Linked DNA regions of Homo sapiens: region 2 is linked to region 1. Evidence: fine-mapped expression QTL. Tissue or cell type: nasal epithelium. Region 1 holds a variant in brackets; the other region holds the start of a gene. All regions are shown on one strand. Distances are from middle to middle.

Region 1 (8,104 bases):
AAATGGGCCAGGCACAGTGGTTCACCCCTGTAATCCCAGAACTTTGGGAGGCCAAGGCAGGGGGATCACCTGAGGTCAGAAGTTCGAGACTAGCCTGGCCAACATGGTGAAACCCTGTCTCTAACTAAAAATACAAAAATTAGCTAGGCATGGTGGCACCTGCCTCTAATCCCAGCTACTCAAGAGGCTGAGGCATGAGAATCACTTCAACCTGGGAGGCAAAGGTTGCAGTGAGCCAAGATTGTACCACTGCACTCTAGCCTGGGCAACAAGAGCAAAACTCCGTCTCAAAAAAAAGAAAAACGATAAAGTGTCTGGAGTCACATCAGAGCTCTAGAAAGATTTCTACAGAAAATCCAACTCTAAACAACACAACCAAGGAGAAGAAGTAATTCCTAAATACTGCAGCGATAGGGAAGTAAGTATCTAGTTTGCCAGAGAATATTCCAAATATGCCTCTTTGCCACATAGGTACAAATATCCCTGTTTAATAAATAACCAACATTTCTTGAAATATTTCTTTAAAAACTGTGTAGAAAAGCAAAGCAAAACAAAATTAAAACCTAGACAGCGTAAGATCAATGCTTTAAAAAGCAAAATCTCTGTAAGTTTCTTTATCCTATATTTTTGAGTTTAAGAATCTTACTTCTCTTTGCCCCACTAAAAGGAGAATAAGGAAAGAATTCCATAAACACGCCACAATTAACCCCTCCTAAGTACATTTTTTTCTTTTTGAGACAGATTTTTACTCTTGTTGCCCAGGCTGGAGTGCAGTGGTGAGATCTCGGCTCACTGTAACTTCCGCCTCCCAGGTTCAAGCCATTCTCCTGTCTCAGCCTCCCGAGTAGCTGGGATTATAGGCATCCACCACCACCCCCGGCTACCTTTTGTATTTTTAGTAAAGACAAACTTTCACCACGTTGGCCAGGCTGGTCTCAAACTCCTGACCTCGGGTGATCCACCTGCCTCAGCCTCCAAAGTGCTGGGATTACAGGCATGAGCCACAGTCTCTGGCCGCAGCCTCTTTTGAAAGGAAGACCCTTCAGGTGGACACTGCTCACGACTCAGAACGATTTTACGTGGCCCCTCCAGACCTGGGCCCATTGCACACTCAGCCCCTCCCCCATCATCAAACAAGCTGGTTAATTGGTCACATTTCAGTCTGAGACCTTTCCAAGTCTCTTCCACACACAAAAGGCAGTCGCCAGAAGTCACAAACGTCCCTCAAGCCCCCTTTCAGACTCAATGCAAATGCATCCAGAATGTCTCTGGGGAAGTGGAAAAGCTGCTGCTTTCCATCTTGAAAGGCCGTGGCCTTCGCCGTCCAAAGGATGCTCTAGTAAAGGCCTCTGCTGGGCATTACTGTGTCAACAACATTCTGGCGAGCATTGATTGTGTGCAAAGGAACGTCAGGCCGCTAAATTTAAGTCTTCAGGACCCCTTGTTTATCCTCAAGGGAAAGGTGGCAGATGACATAGCCTCAACAAGGCACAGCAGGTACAGAAAGTGGGTATTTACTTACACATCAAAACTTTTCAACAACATCGTTTGTGGGTGACATCAGCTGCTTTCTTGTCTCTAAGCAGCATGGCTGCAGTTGGGACATCCTCCTCCCTCAGTGAGAATAGTGGTCCTGGCCACGGCGGGAAGCAGACATTCTAAGGACCTGGGGCACAGACATTCCAGAAGGTAGGCACCATTTCAGTGCCCAGGCCTTCTCTGTAGTTGCTGGGAGGGGTACGGCTGCTGCCCTCCTGCACGGGAGCCATGTGCCTCAGGGGCGTCTCAAGAATCCTGGGGAAGGAAGTGAAGTCTGAGGACAGGAGTGTCTGCATCCCCTTCTCAGCCCTCCAGCAGCCTCTGAGGACCCCTTCAGGTCCTGCTCTTACTCTACAACCCACCTCGCCCCCAGCAGAAGATGCCAGATTAGAGACCCCATGTGATTATCCTCCAGAGCTTCTCTCTGGCCTTAGGAAGCCAACCTCTGCCCGTGGCCAAAAAACCAAGGCTCCGACTGGACTTGTCTTCTGATTTCTGGCTGTTCTAACTTCAAACTCATGAACAGGAGCCATAGTTGGACCTCTAATGCCTCCCAACGATCACTCTCTAGGTCCTAATCTGTTACCCTTGACAATGACTTCTTTTCTCTCAAACCTCTAGCACCTCCTCCTCGTCCTCACTTAGCTGTTCCTCCCATTTTACTGAGCAAATAGCACCCCAAAAAGAGCTTCCAGCAGCTCCCACCACCGCATTTACCCATCCCTGCCTCCGTCTACATCCCTGTACCCTGGATCTACTGTGCTCCTAACTGTGGCCTCCCTCCTAGTTGTCATGACTTTCTCCGGGGTGCTTAGCACCGTCTACCACACCACATGTTGTATTATTTGCTTATTGTCTGTCTTCCCATTAGAATGGAAGCTCCATGAGGGCAGAGGTTTTATTCATTTGTTTACTGCTATGTTCCTGCACTGAGAACAATGCCTGGGATGCAGGAGGTACTCACTAAATGTTTCGTGGGTAAACGACTGAATAATTTCTTCCACTGAACGAATGTTTTAGAACCTGCCTTCAGCTGAGTTTGTGGGACTTGGCAGGACTCGCAATACCATCCCTGGCTCACACATACAGAGCAAGAGCTCCACTCACGGTTCTCGCAGTGGGGGCCCTCCCAGCCATCCCGACACTTGCAGCGGTAGCTCCCATTCTGCAGGACGCAGCTGCCCTCATTCATGCACGGGCTGGGTTTGCAGAGGTTGACTGGCTGCTTGGCTTCTACAATGGAGAACACCATACCCACCAGGCCGGCCAGGCATGGGTTAGACCCGAAGACCCCTACCCTAAGTAAGCCCAGTAGAGGTGCAAGGCTACTAGAGTCATGTCTCCCTTTGCCCCGGTAGCTCATGGTTGGTGCTGCATACCACTTGGCTAGGTTAGTAAGACCCAGCTCTCCTACAGACTCATGGAGAGTCCATTGCTCAGACGTGCCATACACATGGCAGACTTTTTTTTTTTTTTTTTTGAGGCAGAATCTTGCTCTTGTTGCCCAGGCTGGAGTACAATGGCGCGATCTTGGCTCACCACAACCTCCACCTCCCGGGTTCAAGTGATTCTCCTGTCTCTTTTAAGAAGGTGAAGAGGAGGTCACTGGATTTGGGCTGGCCTGGCCCTGTTTGCTCTGGGCTCTGTCACTGCCCAAGTCAGTGTGAATGTGGGATCTTTAGACCCTTAGGAAGCTTGTGGATATTCTAAAAGTGTGTTCTGTTTAAAGGGAATGCATAAATTCTCAAGTTTGGGGGGAGTTATCTATGTTAGTTAAACTTTCTGTACCTTAAATGTCAAATAGGATGGTTATGCCTACTGTAGGATTTTATGTGAGCATGGGGTTTAGCACAGAACCTGGCACTTGGGAAGCAAGTGCTCAGTAGCTGGGAAGAGCTGCCATCCTCGTCATGATGTATGTGAAGGCTCAGGCTGAGGGCCTGCCATGGGGGCAGCCCTGAGGGTGTGGATTCCCCCACTCACCTCCACACAGCCACTCAATGAGCACGTCCTGGTGGTACCGCAGGTCGGCGTAAGCTGCCACGTGGATCAGGGAATCCCGGGGACCTGCAAGCCTCCGCAGACCCTCACTTAGGACAGGCCCCACGCCCACGACCAAGACAGAGATGCCATTGTTCCTCAGCTTCTGGGCAGGAACGGCTGCATCCTCTGCGCCTCTCCCGCCTGTGAGCACCACCACAGCTTTGGGGACACCAGGCCGGGCACCCCTCTGGACGGTCATCACTTTGTCATAGATGTGCAGCAGGGCGGTGCCGGCTGAGCCCACCCCACCTAGGTAGGGGGCCTGGCTAATGGCCCGCAGCATCGCAGCCCGGGTGGGTTTGGTGTCCAGCCCGAAGGCAGTCTGCACCTGGCTGCCATACACCACCAGGCCGACCTGTGTCACGTCAGGGTTCACCTCAAACTGGAGGGCACAGCTTCTCACAAAGCTCTGCATCTGAGCAAAATTCTCGGGCCCTACTGAGGCAGAGGTGTCCAACATGAAGACGAGGTCCAGGGCTTGTGTCCGGCACCCTGCAGGAGCAAGCAGAGGGGCTTCAGCAGTGGATGTGCCAGTCAGAGCCCCTCGACGGGACCCAGGGACTGCCAGGTTGGGTAGGACCAAGGTCAGCCAGGGTGCTCTGTTCACTGCAGAATACACCCTCTATGTCTTCCTTTTAGCCACAGAACAGCACTTTCCTAGAATATTAGCAGGAAGATGAGTGCCTGCCAGACCACATTTCCCAGACTTCCTGGCAGCTAGGGTGGCCACGTGTCTAAGTTCTATCTGACGGACGTGATCAATTTCAAACTCATGCAGCTGGAAGCTGCTTACCTTCCACTTCCCCTCTCCCCCTTCCTGCTGGCTGAGAAATGGTGACCTTGGACCTCAAGGTGGAAGCCATAAGATGACCAAGCCCTGCTGGCCCGGGCCACTCACCTCTGAACTGTA[T/C]GTGAGAGAAATAAGTTCCTGTCTTATGTAACCCATGGGGTTTGGGTTTGTGGGCAACCCTTTGTGACAACATCTTCACCTGTGCCTTCATCCATCCCCAGTATGCAGGGCACTAATTAGATGCTGTATGGACAAAATGGGCCCATGCCTGCTGTCAACAGGCTGACAGTCTAGGGGAACAGACATGAAATGAACATAGAATTACAAATGATGTCGGCAGCGTGGAGGGAAAAGCAGGGGACTTCGAGAGAGACCAGTAGGGGAACATAACAAGACTGGGAGAAGGGGTCAGAGCTTCTCTGGGGAGGTGACATTTCACCTAAGAACTGAAAGACAAGTAAGTATGAGCCAGAAGGCCTCTCCTGTGCAGGGGATGCAGAGAGGCCTGTGGGGACCAGGCCACAGGGAGCTCTCAGAAGCCAGGGGAAGGAGTTTGGGTTTTATTCCAAGTGCAAAGGGGAACCACTGGAAATTCTAAGTATGGAGTTAGAGGAGCTGATGCTCTGATTACTGGTTTTTAAAACCACTCCCACACCAGGAACGTCTGAGAAACTATCACAGCTACGGGGAAGGCGGCTGACTACATGTACTGTGGGGTCCTGGATGGGATTCTGGAACACAAAAAAGACATTAGGTAAAAACTAAACAAATATAAATAAGCATGGATTCACTAAATAATGATGTATCAATACTGGTTCATTAATGATAACACTGTGCCATACTAATGCAAGGTGTTAATAGGAGGGGAAACTGGGTGTGGGGTATAGGGAACTCTCCACTATTGTCAATTATTTTTTCCTATAAATCTACAACTATTATTTTTTTTAAAAAATCCAACCAAACAAAGCAGCAGAACAAAAGCACTTAGACCAGCCTGGAGGGGCAGGGTGGGAGTGGGCAGCCAATCCCTGTCCTTCCGCCTTACAGGAGGGAAAGCCTCTCGCCTTGGGGAGAGTGGTGGCATCAGGGCTGAGAAGCAGAATCACATCTGTAGCTTCCCATGCCCACCTACCAAGGGGAGAACTCCAGGAGCCCTATAAAGGCTTACATTTCACTCAAGCCTGTAATCCCTCCACTTTGGGAGGCTGAGGTGGGTGGATTGCTTGAGCCCAGGAGTTCGAGACCAGCCTGGGCAACATAGCAAGACCACATCTCTCTAAAAAATAAAACAATTAGCTGGGCATGGTGGTGTGCACCTGTAGTCCTGGCTATTCTGGAGGCTGAGGTGGAAGGATCACGTGAGCCCAGGAGTTCAAGGCTGCAGTGAGCTATGATCGTGCCACTGCATTCCAGCCTGGGTAACAGAGCAAGACCCTGTCTCAAAAGAAAAAAAAGACGTGTTTCAGCTACTACATCTCTGGCCATGGGCCAGGCCTCTGCGTGGGGACAGTGTTCTCTAGAGTGCCTTCCAATAGGGGTCATAAAAAATCAGCTTCATGGCTTGCAAAACAGAACAGAAGAGAAAAATGTCAGAATGCATCCCAAGTAGACAGGGTAAGTATCCTCTCAGGAAGCGTTTGTTTCAGTTGTGTGTGGCTGCACCAGCGCGTGTGCATGCACATGCATCCGTGTGTGTATGTGTGCATACATGTGCATGTGTGCACCAGGAACACACTTTTCTGTGGATTGCCATCAAAGGAGCTGGGAAGCTGCTGCTCTGGAGCCTGCTTAGTAGATTCAGAGCTCTTAGTAACAACAACAATAAAATCGTGATTAAGAATGATAACAGCAACACCTAGAGTTTGCTGAGTGCTTACTCTGTACTAAGCATGTACACTGCCCATCTTACCTAATTCTCACTAAAGATCTCTCAGGAGGTACTACTATTAGTCCCATTTTGTTGACAGGTAAACTGAAAATTATTTATGTGACTGGTGCCTGAAAGAGTGGGGCTGTGGTTTCAGCCCCTAGAAGAGGCACTGGCAGAAAATGATGGTTAGGTGGTGGCCAAAAGGAGGAAGGACCCGCCCACTGACCAGCGGTCCTGGGTCAGGCACTGGGACCTTACCTGGCCGCTGCCGGCTGCACAGCTTCCCCTGCAGCTCAGGGATTTGGTTGAACAGATCCTGAGGATCCGAGTAGACCATCACATGCTTTGGGCTGCCTGTGATCTCCTCCAGCTCTGCCCGCACGGCCTCACTGCCTACACCCAGCAGGAGCAGCTCTCGCGCCCTTGCGTGACGCGCTGGGCCCGCAACCTCATCCTCGGAGTGTGACTCAGTGAGCAAAACCACCACTCTACGTGGCCGGTCCTGGCCTGTCCTGGTGGCGCTCCCGAAGCCACGCTCTGCCGCCTGCCGCAAGGCACTGCCCGTCAGGGTGGGGCCACCACGGAAGGGAATGCCATCGAGGCTCCAGACCAGGTCAGGCACATCCTGGTACTCCCCCACAGGCACCGCCACCAGCAGCTCCCTGCTGTATGTGGCCACACCCACTCGGGCCCGAGAGTCCTCGCTCAGCACGGCCCGCACAAACCGCTTCACGAAGACTTTGGCCCGCAGGAAGCCGTCCAGAGTGGTGCCCGCAGAGCTGTCCAGCAGGAAGAGGAGGTCGACCCTGCATTCCAGGCTCAGCTTCAGGGCTGCGGGGATCACAGCAACACCCACTGTCAAGCCATGGTCATGCGGCATGCGAGCTGTCCCACCCGAGATGCCGAACATCTCCCAGGAGGGAGATGGTGCAGAGAAACTGTGGGCCCCCCAAGCTTAAGTGACCCGTGCTCGTCACAGAGTTAGAGACAAGGCCAGACATGGCACTCCTGGCACTCGCTAAGGGTCTCCATCTAGCCACTTTTTAAAGAAAAATGCCATCTACATTATCACTTTTTTCCATTATGGTTAGTCCTGTGTGTGTCCTGAGAAATCTTTGTCTGCCTCAAGATCATGAAAATATATGCTCCTGTGTTTGCTTCTACAGGCTTCACTGCTTTGCCTTTTGCACAGAGGTCTATAGCCACGCTAGAATTGACTTCTGGTAGGGTTGTGAGGTACAGGGTCAAGATTGTTTTCATACAGATCTTCAACTAACCCAGTATCACTTGTTTTTAAAAGTTATTATTCATCAAGCCCTTATATGCGTCAAGCATGGTACTAAGCACTTTGCATAATCTTATTTAAAACTCTCAACCACCCAGTGAGGTAAAGCCTACTATCATCTTCATTTCACACCTCTAAAATCAAAAGGAATCGGGGCTCCTTGCTCTGCTTTCATAGAATAGAGAAGAAAAGACTCTGCCCAGGACTGGGAGCCAGAGTTGGGTGGACTCCTGCCTTCAGCTGGGCTGGGCAGCACTCAAACTTCAAGCAGTGACCATTCTGCAGCTAATAAGCTGGGAGCCACTGTCTCATCCAGAGCTCAGCCACCCCAATTATCTACTCACGGAGCACTGACAGGCTGCACCACGTGAACTGCAGACCAGTGGTGCATTGGAAAGCAGATGGTTCAAGGGCCAGTTTCTACCCAGCAGCTGGAAGGGCGTGCAATGAAAAGGGGAGCCCGTCCTCTTCTTGCTCCCCAGTGGTCAGTCTTGCAGGGCCGGTGCATACCTACCACAGTTAGCCTCCCCTCCAAAGGCCAGCGGGCAGAGGCACTGGTAGCCGTCCAGTCCTTCTG
Region 2 (8,104 bases), 50 kb after region 1:
GCAAGCAACAACCTCCCCTGCCTTAGTTCCTCATCTGCCAAATGGGGAGAATCTGTTTCATAAACTCCCCCAGTGTTGTAAAGATCCAGTGAGACAGGGTAGAAAAGTCTCTGCTAAATAGTAAAATGTTTTCTAAATGAATGATGTTAAAAGTTTATCATTACATTTAATATATTCATTTCATTTAACAACACCCATAATCTGTAGGGTAGATATTATCATTTACATCTTTATAGATGAAGAAATGATCTTGGAGAAGACGAGACCCAAGGCCACAGAGCGAGAAAAACCCAGCTTAGAGTCCAGCCCAGGACTTCTCAGCTATGACCAGAAGTACGCGGTACACAGATGCACTGGTACACAGAGGCACGTGGTACACAGAGACATGCGGTACACAGAGGCACCAGTACGCAGAGGCACACAGTACACAGATGCACTGGTATGCAGAGGCACTGATACACAGATTTACTGGTACACAGGGGCACTGCGGTATGCAGAGGCACTGGTACACAGAGGCACGTGGTACACAGAGGCATCGGCATGCAGATGCACCTGGTACTATGAGGCATGCGGTACACAGATGCTCTGGAAAGAGCAACCATCTGATGGCAGGATACCTGAGCATGAGCCTCCTGGGTAAATTCCTCCACTTCAGTCTCTCAATTTCCTTCTCTCTAAAACGGAGGTAACACCATCCATCCTATTTCCCTGGAAAGGTTGTCGCCAGGACCCCATGAAACCACGATGCAAAGGCTCCCGGGGCAAGGGCAAAGTTTCCTAATTTGAGACCAGGGAAATCTAGTTCAAGAGAAGAGACTCATGATCAGGAAAAGGAAGGGGAGGACCGAGGGTAGTAATCACATTCAAGGAAAGTCAGCAGCTAATGTGGTAGGTGGAAGAGGAAAATTAAGCAGTCCAGAGCTGTTTAGAAGACGAAAGGTCACACAAAGGAAGGGACTTCAAATACATTCAGCTGTCCCACTGTGCTGCCTTGGGGTTATACAGAAACATTTTGCAGGGAATGCACACACACAATCACCAACAGACTTCCAATAGCCTCCTTGATGATAGGGAGGGGGGTGGGATTTGTTTTAAAATAGCCTTATTGGATAAAATTAAAAATGAGCAATTCTATTGCAGGCCTCCCAATTAAACTAGGTTTTCATTTACTGATATATGCACTGCAAAAGTTTGAGGACCACTGTTCTAAAACAACCTCGTAGTGTTGCTGACCCTCTCATTGCTATAATTACATGAAATTTCATTTACCCAGTAAAAATTATTAAGCATCTGCCCTGTGCCCGGTACCCTTCCAGGTACTGAGGATGTGAGGACAATGCTTTGTAAGATGCACACACATCAGGGGAGTTATTAACAAAAAAGGCATTTTCACCACAAGCTTATGATGCCGTCACTGCCAAATAACTATTCTGTTTTTATGATGCTCATTAAAAAGCCAGGAGGGGAAATGTCAGTGTATATTACCGAGCGAAAGACACCAATCTGAGAAAGCTACGTACTACATGATTCCAATCATAAGACATTCTGGAAAAGGTAAAACTATTGAGACAGTAGAAAGATCAGTGATTACCATGTGTTGTAGGGAGGGTGGGATGCACAGAAGATTTTTACGGTAGTGAAACTATGCTGTTTGATACTATAATGGCAGATTTATGTCATTTTACATTTGTCCAAAGCCATAGAATGTACAACAGGAGCAAACCCCAGGGCAAACTGTGAACTTTGGGTCATAATGATGTGCCAGTGTCGGTTCATCAGTTGGAACAAATGTACCACTGCAGTGGGGGATGCTGACAATGGGGGAGTCTGTGCATAGGCGGGGACAGGAGGTATATGGGAAACCTGTACCTTCTGCTCAATTTTGCTTTGAACCTAACACTCTAAAACTGGGTCTCAGTTTCCTCATCTGTAAAAACATGGGCTTCTGACTATGATTCGGATATCCCAGGGGCTTGTGCCTATTGAAGAGAGGGGAAATACTGGCTGTAATCTCTGTACGGTAGACCAAAAACCAGATTTAATGAAAATACACTGATGGTTTTCAGCCAGAGATGATGAGGAAAGCAATCCTCTTCTCCAACCTGGGATTTGCCTGGGGACCTAGTCTGAGAAATTCTTACACTACTAGGAGATGGCTCTGGGCTGGATTTTACAAAAGAAGAGTAAGGCCTGAGGAGCTCTGAACCCCCATCAGTCACAAGAGAGGATGGCTTCAGCCTGCTGAAAGCCAGCAGCATTTACAAATTCATGCCTGTGGCTTTTGCCAACTCTAGTGGTACCTTTCTGACCTCTTCACTTCTCTGACTCTTCAATAAATCGACATTTCTTAATATAGTGTCACCTTAACAGCAAAAGAGACCTTGAATTTTTGGGACTGAATTTATAAAACACTTAGAGGTTCTGGGGTTTTACTTAAAGCAGCTTGTAATTTGAAAAATGTACACGTTCTAATTATTCCAATCTCCAAGACATCAAACACATGGCATGAGGTCCCCATTGCTAAGTCCCCTTTCAGCTTCAGCTGGAGCCCTTGATTCCACAATCACAAGCAGCAAGGTGCCCTCCTCCCTTCTCTTCTGTCTGGTGCCCCCAGCAAGTTTTCAAGGTTCAATTCTGAGACTCTCCCATTCACCGTCCCAGCAGGTGGCCAAGGGCCCAAGGCGGGAGGGAAAGGTCGGCTTAGCTAGGGAAAGTTTTGTTAGCCTTATTGGAAGGGAAGGAGACATGCAGGAAGCAGGGCTGAGCCAGGTGGGGGAAGTCACCAGAACGACAAACCCCTGGACTTCCCACTGCCCAAGCGCGAGGACTCTCGGGGCAGCCGGCCCCTCTCAGGTTCTGCTTGCAGACACTTCGCTGGGGGCACTCGTTCTGCCTGGGAAAACTGCCCCAAGTCCCCTTAACACCTGTGTATGTCCTGTAGTGGGGTGTGGGGTGGAAGCGAGCATGTCACCAAAGCCTTTATTCAAAGGGCGAGTCCCTTTCCGCGGCCGCCAGGGAAGGGGGCCCCGCTACTGTGCCAGGAGGGCAGCTTGGGTTTAATACATGCCCTCCTCCACCCCTGTACCCGGAGCCCCTACCCACTTACCTGCTGACCGCACCCCTCCCAAAACCCCGCCAGCTCGCCCGGGACGGACCGCGAGTGGCCACGAGGGAGGCGCGCGCCAGGTGCGCTCTTCCCCCGACGCCGCCGTGCCAGGAAGGCCGCGCTCAGGTGCGCGCAGACAATGCGAACAAAGCCCGCACCCTCGGCGGGGCCGCGCAGCCCGGGTGCTCTGGGTAGGGGTGGCTGGGCAGAGGGGGCCCCAGTACCGGGAGCGTGAATCGGTCATCGGCAGCCGGCACTGGCGGGTACCCGGGCGCCAGAGCCAACTCGGGGCTGGGACTCACCGGAAGGAGAGCGGCGACCAGCGCTCGGTGCCCGGGCGGCTCTACTCACAGACCCGGGCGCGGCTCGGGCCAGGGGGCGCTACGGGATCACAGGAGGGGCGCCCGGGGCGCGGCTGCCACGTGGGACACCTGTTTGTCTCTCCTGGGAGAGGGCGGCACGACCCGACCCGGCTGAGGTCGGAGGAACTACCGCCAGGGAGGTGCATAGAGCCCCTCGCGTTTTTTAAAGCGGCATCGGCCCAGGTCTGCAAATAAAAAAGTACTTCACTTCTACGCGGGTCACCCAGCCTCCGAGCGGTGCAGCCGCGAACACTGTGCCGTCAGCTGACTCCTCCACGGGCTTTATAGCTCCTTGAAAAAATGTTGACTTTGGCATCTTTTCTATTTGTCATGGCAATTGCCTTTTAATTACCTGTCCCTCCTATTGTTGCAGTTGGGTAATAAGCCGACCTTTTGGCCATCATCCTTGCTTAAGATTGGAGGGCGTTTGATTTTTAAAAAATCAAATGCCACAAAGCACAATGCTGAGCATGATGCTTTATATAAAGTAAGCTCTCAATGAACGTTGACTATGACTGCACAATCCATAATTTCCATACTTCATTTAAAAACTGCCAGAGCATGCCTGTTCATTGCAAAAAAAAAAAAAAGAAAAGAAATAACAGTAAAAAAGTTGATAAATCAATCATTTTCCAACACCCAGAGATAATCAGTTAACATTGTGGTGTATGTTCTTCCAATGTCATTCTACCTATGCAAAAATTTATATATTTTTAGTTCATTCCATACAAGCTGTACATTACTCAGGTTTTCCATTTCCTTTTTTTGAATGTCCGTTTTAAGCCACTTCATAATGTCCTAATGTACTTAACCTATCTGCTATTGTTGAATATTAAACTTTCCATTTTAATAATACAATTAGATGTCTTTGTGCTTTTGTCCAATTAATTCCTTAGAATAAACTACGAAAAGGTAAATTTCTAGGATACAGGTTTTATACAACTTAAGACTTTTGATGCCTATTATCTAATTGTCCTCAAGGAAGGTTGACCTGCTTCCTCTTTTCCATGCTCCTTCCCATTATTCTTGTAAATGTCAATCTGATAGGAAAATAATTTGCTTTACACCTTTCCTGTCTGTAGTTCTCAGTTAATTTCCAAACCTCCGACACTGACAGCTTCCAGTGAAAGTGGCCCGTGGTGACTTTAATGTTGCAAACCTCATTGAAGGAGGCTAGGAAAGGACTCATTTTTCCTGTAATTCATTTCTCCCAGTAACATTTACTGAGCACCCAAAAATAAAAACAGGGCCACACCAGAGCAGCAGACATAATGTACCACCACATCATCCCCACAGGGGACAGCAGTTAGTCTTGAGGTCTAACTGCTGGGGAGGGATGGTCTCTGCCTCTAGATCAGCATTGCCCCAGAGAAATACTGACCAAGCCACGTGTGTAATTTTAAATGTTCTAGTGGTCACATTTAATAAAAAGTGAAAAGAAACAGCAAGCTGGATTTCAGTATTAACCTAAACATCCGGAACATTATCTCAACATGTAATCAATAAAGATGTTTTATGCTGTCTTCAAAGTCCTGTTTTTTTGTTTTTTTTTTTTTTTTTTTTGTTTGAGACAGAGTCTCACTCTGTTGCCCAGGCTGGAGTGCAATGGCATGATCTTGGCTCACTGCAACCTCTGCCTCCCAGGTTCAAATGGTTCTCCTGCCTCAGCCTCCCGAGTAGCTGGGATCACAGGTGCACACCACCATGCCCGGCTAATTTTTGTATTTTTAGTAAAGACAGGGTTTTGCCATGTTGGCCAGGCTGGTCTCAAACTCCTGACCTCAGGTAATCCACCCGCCTCAGCCTCCCAAAATGCTGGGATCATAGGCGTGAGCCACCACGCCTGGCCAATCCTGTTGTATTCTATACTCACAAGCACATCTCAATTTGGACTCGCCACATTTTTAAGTGCTGTATAGTCAAATGGGGTGAGTGGCCTGTGCTGCTCCAGAGATGTCCAACAAGGGCAGACCCCAGGTCCTCAAGAAAGTGGAAATTCTACCTTTGACAACCCTCTCCCTGTACCCCTTATGCTGTTTAACAGGTACCAGCATACTTTGACCTTATCAGGCTTACCTTGGAGAAGCCAAATTTCAATCCTGGTTGTTCCTGAAGTATTTGGCATGTCTTTAATTGGGGGCGGGGGGGGGGGAGGTATTTCACATTTTCATTCTGTGATTATGAAGAACTGAAAGCATAAATACAGTGAAGATACCTGTTGCTTCAGACTTCTTCACATCAATGTATAATCAGTCTGTCCGGGGTGTGCACTTGGGCAGGAGGGAAGGCAGGTGGTGCAGGCCCTGGTGAGTGCTGAGTGCTGAGTGGGTGACCAGCAGGGGTGGAGGCTTTTTATGCAGAAAGCTGGGTAGCTACTTTTGTCATCCATGACATCCCTTCCTTTGTGAAGATTTACAAGGATTTAAAAAATAAAGTTATTATGAATTACAATCATTCTAAGGGGCATGTAAGCTTCTTGCTTCCCAGGAGCTTGCCTTATTCATCTTTGCAGCCCAATGCCTGGTAACTTGCACACAGTAAATGCCCTCAGAAATAAAACCCCATGTCCTCCACTGACTGAAAGGACCCCCTCTTGTCCAAGGGGACCCCAGAGAAATATTTTTGAGACTGAGTCTCGCTTTACTGCCCAGGCTGGAGTGCAGTGGCTGGATCTCAGCTTACTGCAACCTCCGCCTCCCAGGTTCAAACGATTTTCATGCCTCAGCCTCCCAAGTGACTGGGATTACAGGCGCCCACCACCAGGCCCGGCTAATTTTCGTATTTTTAGTAAAGATGGGGTTTCACCATGTTGGCCAGGGTGGTCTCGAACTCCTGACCTTAAATTATCCAGAGAAATCTTAAAAGCGGAGTTCCCATATATGACTGGAAGGGAGACGGGAAACAGCTTGTTATACCTGCTCCTTCACTATCAGCCATTAGTTTTTTTTTTTTTTTTGGAGAAAGGGGCTTGCTCTGTTGCCCAGCCTGGAGTACAGTGGTGTGACCTTGGCTCAAGACCTGCCTCGACCTCCTGGGCTCCATTAATCCTCCCATCTCAGCCTCCCGAGTAGTTAGAACTACAGGTACGTGCCACCACACCAGGTTTTTTTTTTTTTTTTTTTTTTTTTTGGTAGAGATGAGGTTTCCTTGTGTTGCCCAGGCTGGTCTTGAGCTCCTGGGCTCAAGCAATCTGTCCATCTCACCCTCCCAAAGTGCTGGGGTCACAGGCATGAGCCACAGTACCCAGCCTTCTTTCTTAAGGGTTAAACAGAAACCAGCCCTTTGGGAAAGACTTGCTCCACCCCTGCTATCTTTGAGGGTCTCACTGTATCCCCCAGGCTGAAGTATAGTGGCACAATCATAGCTCACCACAGCCTTGACCTCCTGGGCTCAAGCAGTCCTCTTACCTCAGCCTCCAGAGTAGCTGGGATTACAGCCACGTACCATTGCACTGGTGGTTTTTTTGTTCTGGGTAGAGATGAGGTGTTGCTCTGTTGCCCAAGCTGGTCTTGAACTCCTCAAACTCAAGGAATCCTCACAGTGCTGGGACTGCAGGTGTGAGCCACTGCACCTGGCCTCTACTATTGATATGAACCAACCACTTGATGCTGCCCCTTCCTTTTAAGGTTTCAACAAACCAAGCAACCAGCATTCCTTCCTAAGAGACAATGGACCATGGAGTGGCTCTGGCTAGTCTATAGAAGATGTACCATGAGAGTTGTGTCCTCTGCTTCACCTTTTGACCCAAGAGGGCCAAAAACTCCACCCCAGAATCATGCTAATACCATTTTTTTGTACATGTAACCCATCAAGAGTCATGAAGCTTAATTGCACATGTACATCTTTCATAAATATTCATGACTCCTCCTATAGTTTACTGTGTATTTGGCCACTCCACTCAGCATAAATTCCTGTCTTATTTTTCCCAACCTGGAAGTGTGTTTCTGGTTTCTGGCTGGAGGCTACACTTTCCAGACTGTAGCAATGGCTACCCTGCCAGTGGCCACGCTTTATGAAAAATAAAGCTCTCCTTTCCAAATTCATGAACTTTCTCATTCTTCAGTTGACACCTTCTATGATGTTAATTCTCAAGTTGCGCTGTCCCGTGTGTCTCAGTTGTAAACACAAGAGGTATAAACACAGAGTCTTAGTGTAAACTGAGAGTGTAAACACAGAGGTGACTGAATTTCACTCAGGGATAAATGGAGACATCCGTACTCGGTGACATGCATCACCCAGAGGCACCCATTGTAGTAAAGTGACTGTGGCTTCAGATTAGGGGGCTCCTGCCTACTGGCTTTGTAACACAGAAAAGAAACTTAACTTTTGATTGCTCAGTTTCCTGACCTATAAAGGGTGATGGGTACAACAGTTCCTAACTCTAGAATCCCAACTAATATTTTGATCCAGTCCCTCAAATGATGAAAGGTAAAGCACACACGAAAGGAACAGACAAAAAGGAGGATGCTTAATAGAGCTCCAAGAGTTGTATATTTTCCAGAAGCCACATAGCAGCCACTAACCAGAGCCCTCTTATTGAGAAATAAAAGAACACGAAACAGTACCTACTAAACAGCAAAGAAACCATCCTAGAGGAAACAAAGAGCCTGACTCAGAAGCGCTCAACAAGCAGCAA

The links. PIP is the estimated chance that this variant, and not a neighbour inherited with it, causes the effect.
Region 2: VWA2 starts here. The variant in region 1 is fine-mapped to the expression of VWA2 in nasal epithelium (TOPMed, PIP above 0.99).

Annotation. Positions count from the first base shown.
Region 1 is chr10:114,284,908-114,293,011 of GRCh38, reverse strand. VWA2 (von Willebrand factor A domain containing 2) reads right to left here. Exons shown (of 14, transcript NM_001272046.2): 10 at 8,042-8,104; 11 at 6,501-7,073; 12 at 3,523-4,074; 13 at 2,647-2,772; 14 at 1-1,794. The coding sequence ends at 1,775. It also overlaps a transcript of AFAP1L2 not described here. Among named protein-coding and RNA genes, the nearest start is that of VWA2, 50 kb to the right of the region's middle. RefSeq lists an enhancer at 6,805-7,416. The variant T/C (reference allele first, on the strand shown) is at 4,493.
Region 2 is chr10:114,234,874-114,242,977 of GRCh38, reverse strand. It overlaps VWA2 (von Willebrand factor A domain containing 2), which reads right to left and starts at 3,724. Exons shown (of 14, transcript NM_001272046.2): 1 at 3,409-3,724. RefSeq lists an enhancer at 3,105-3,813.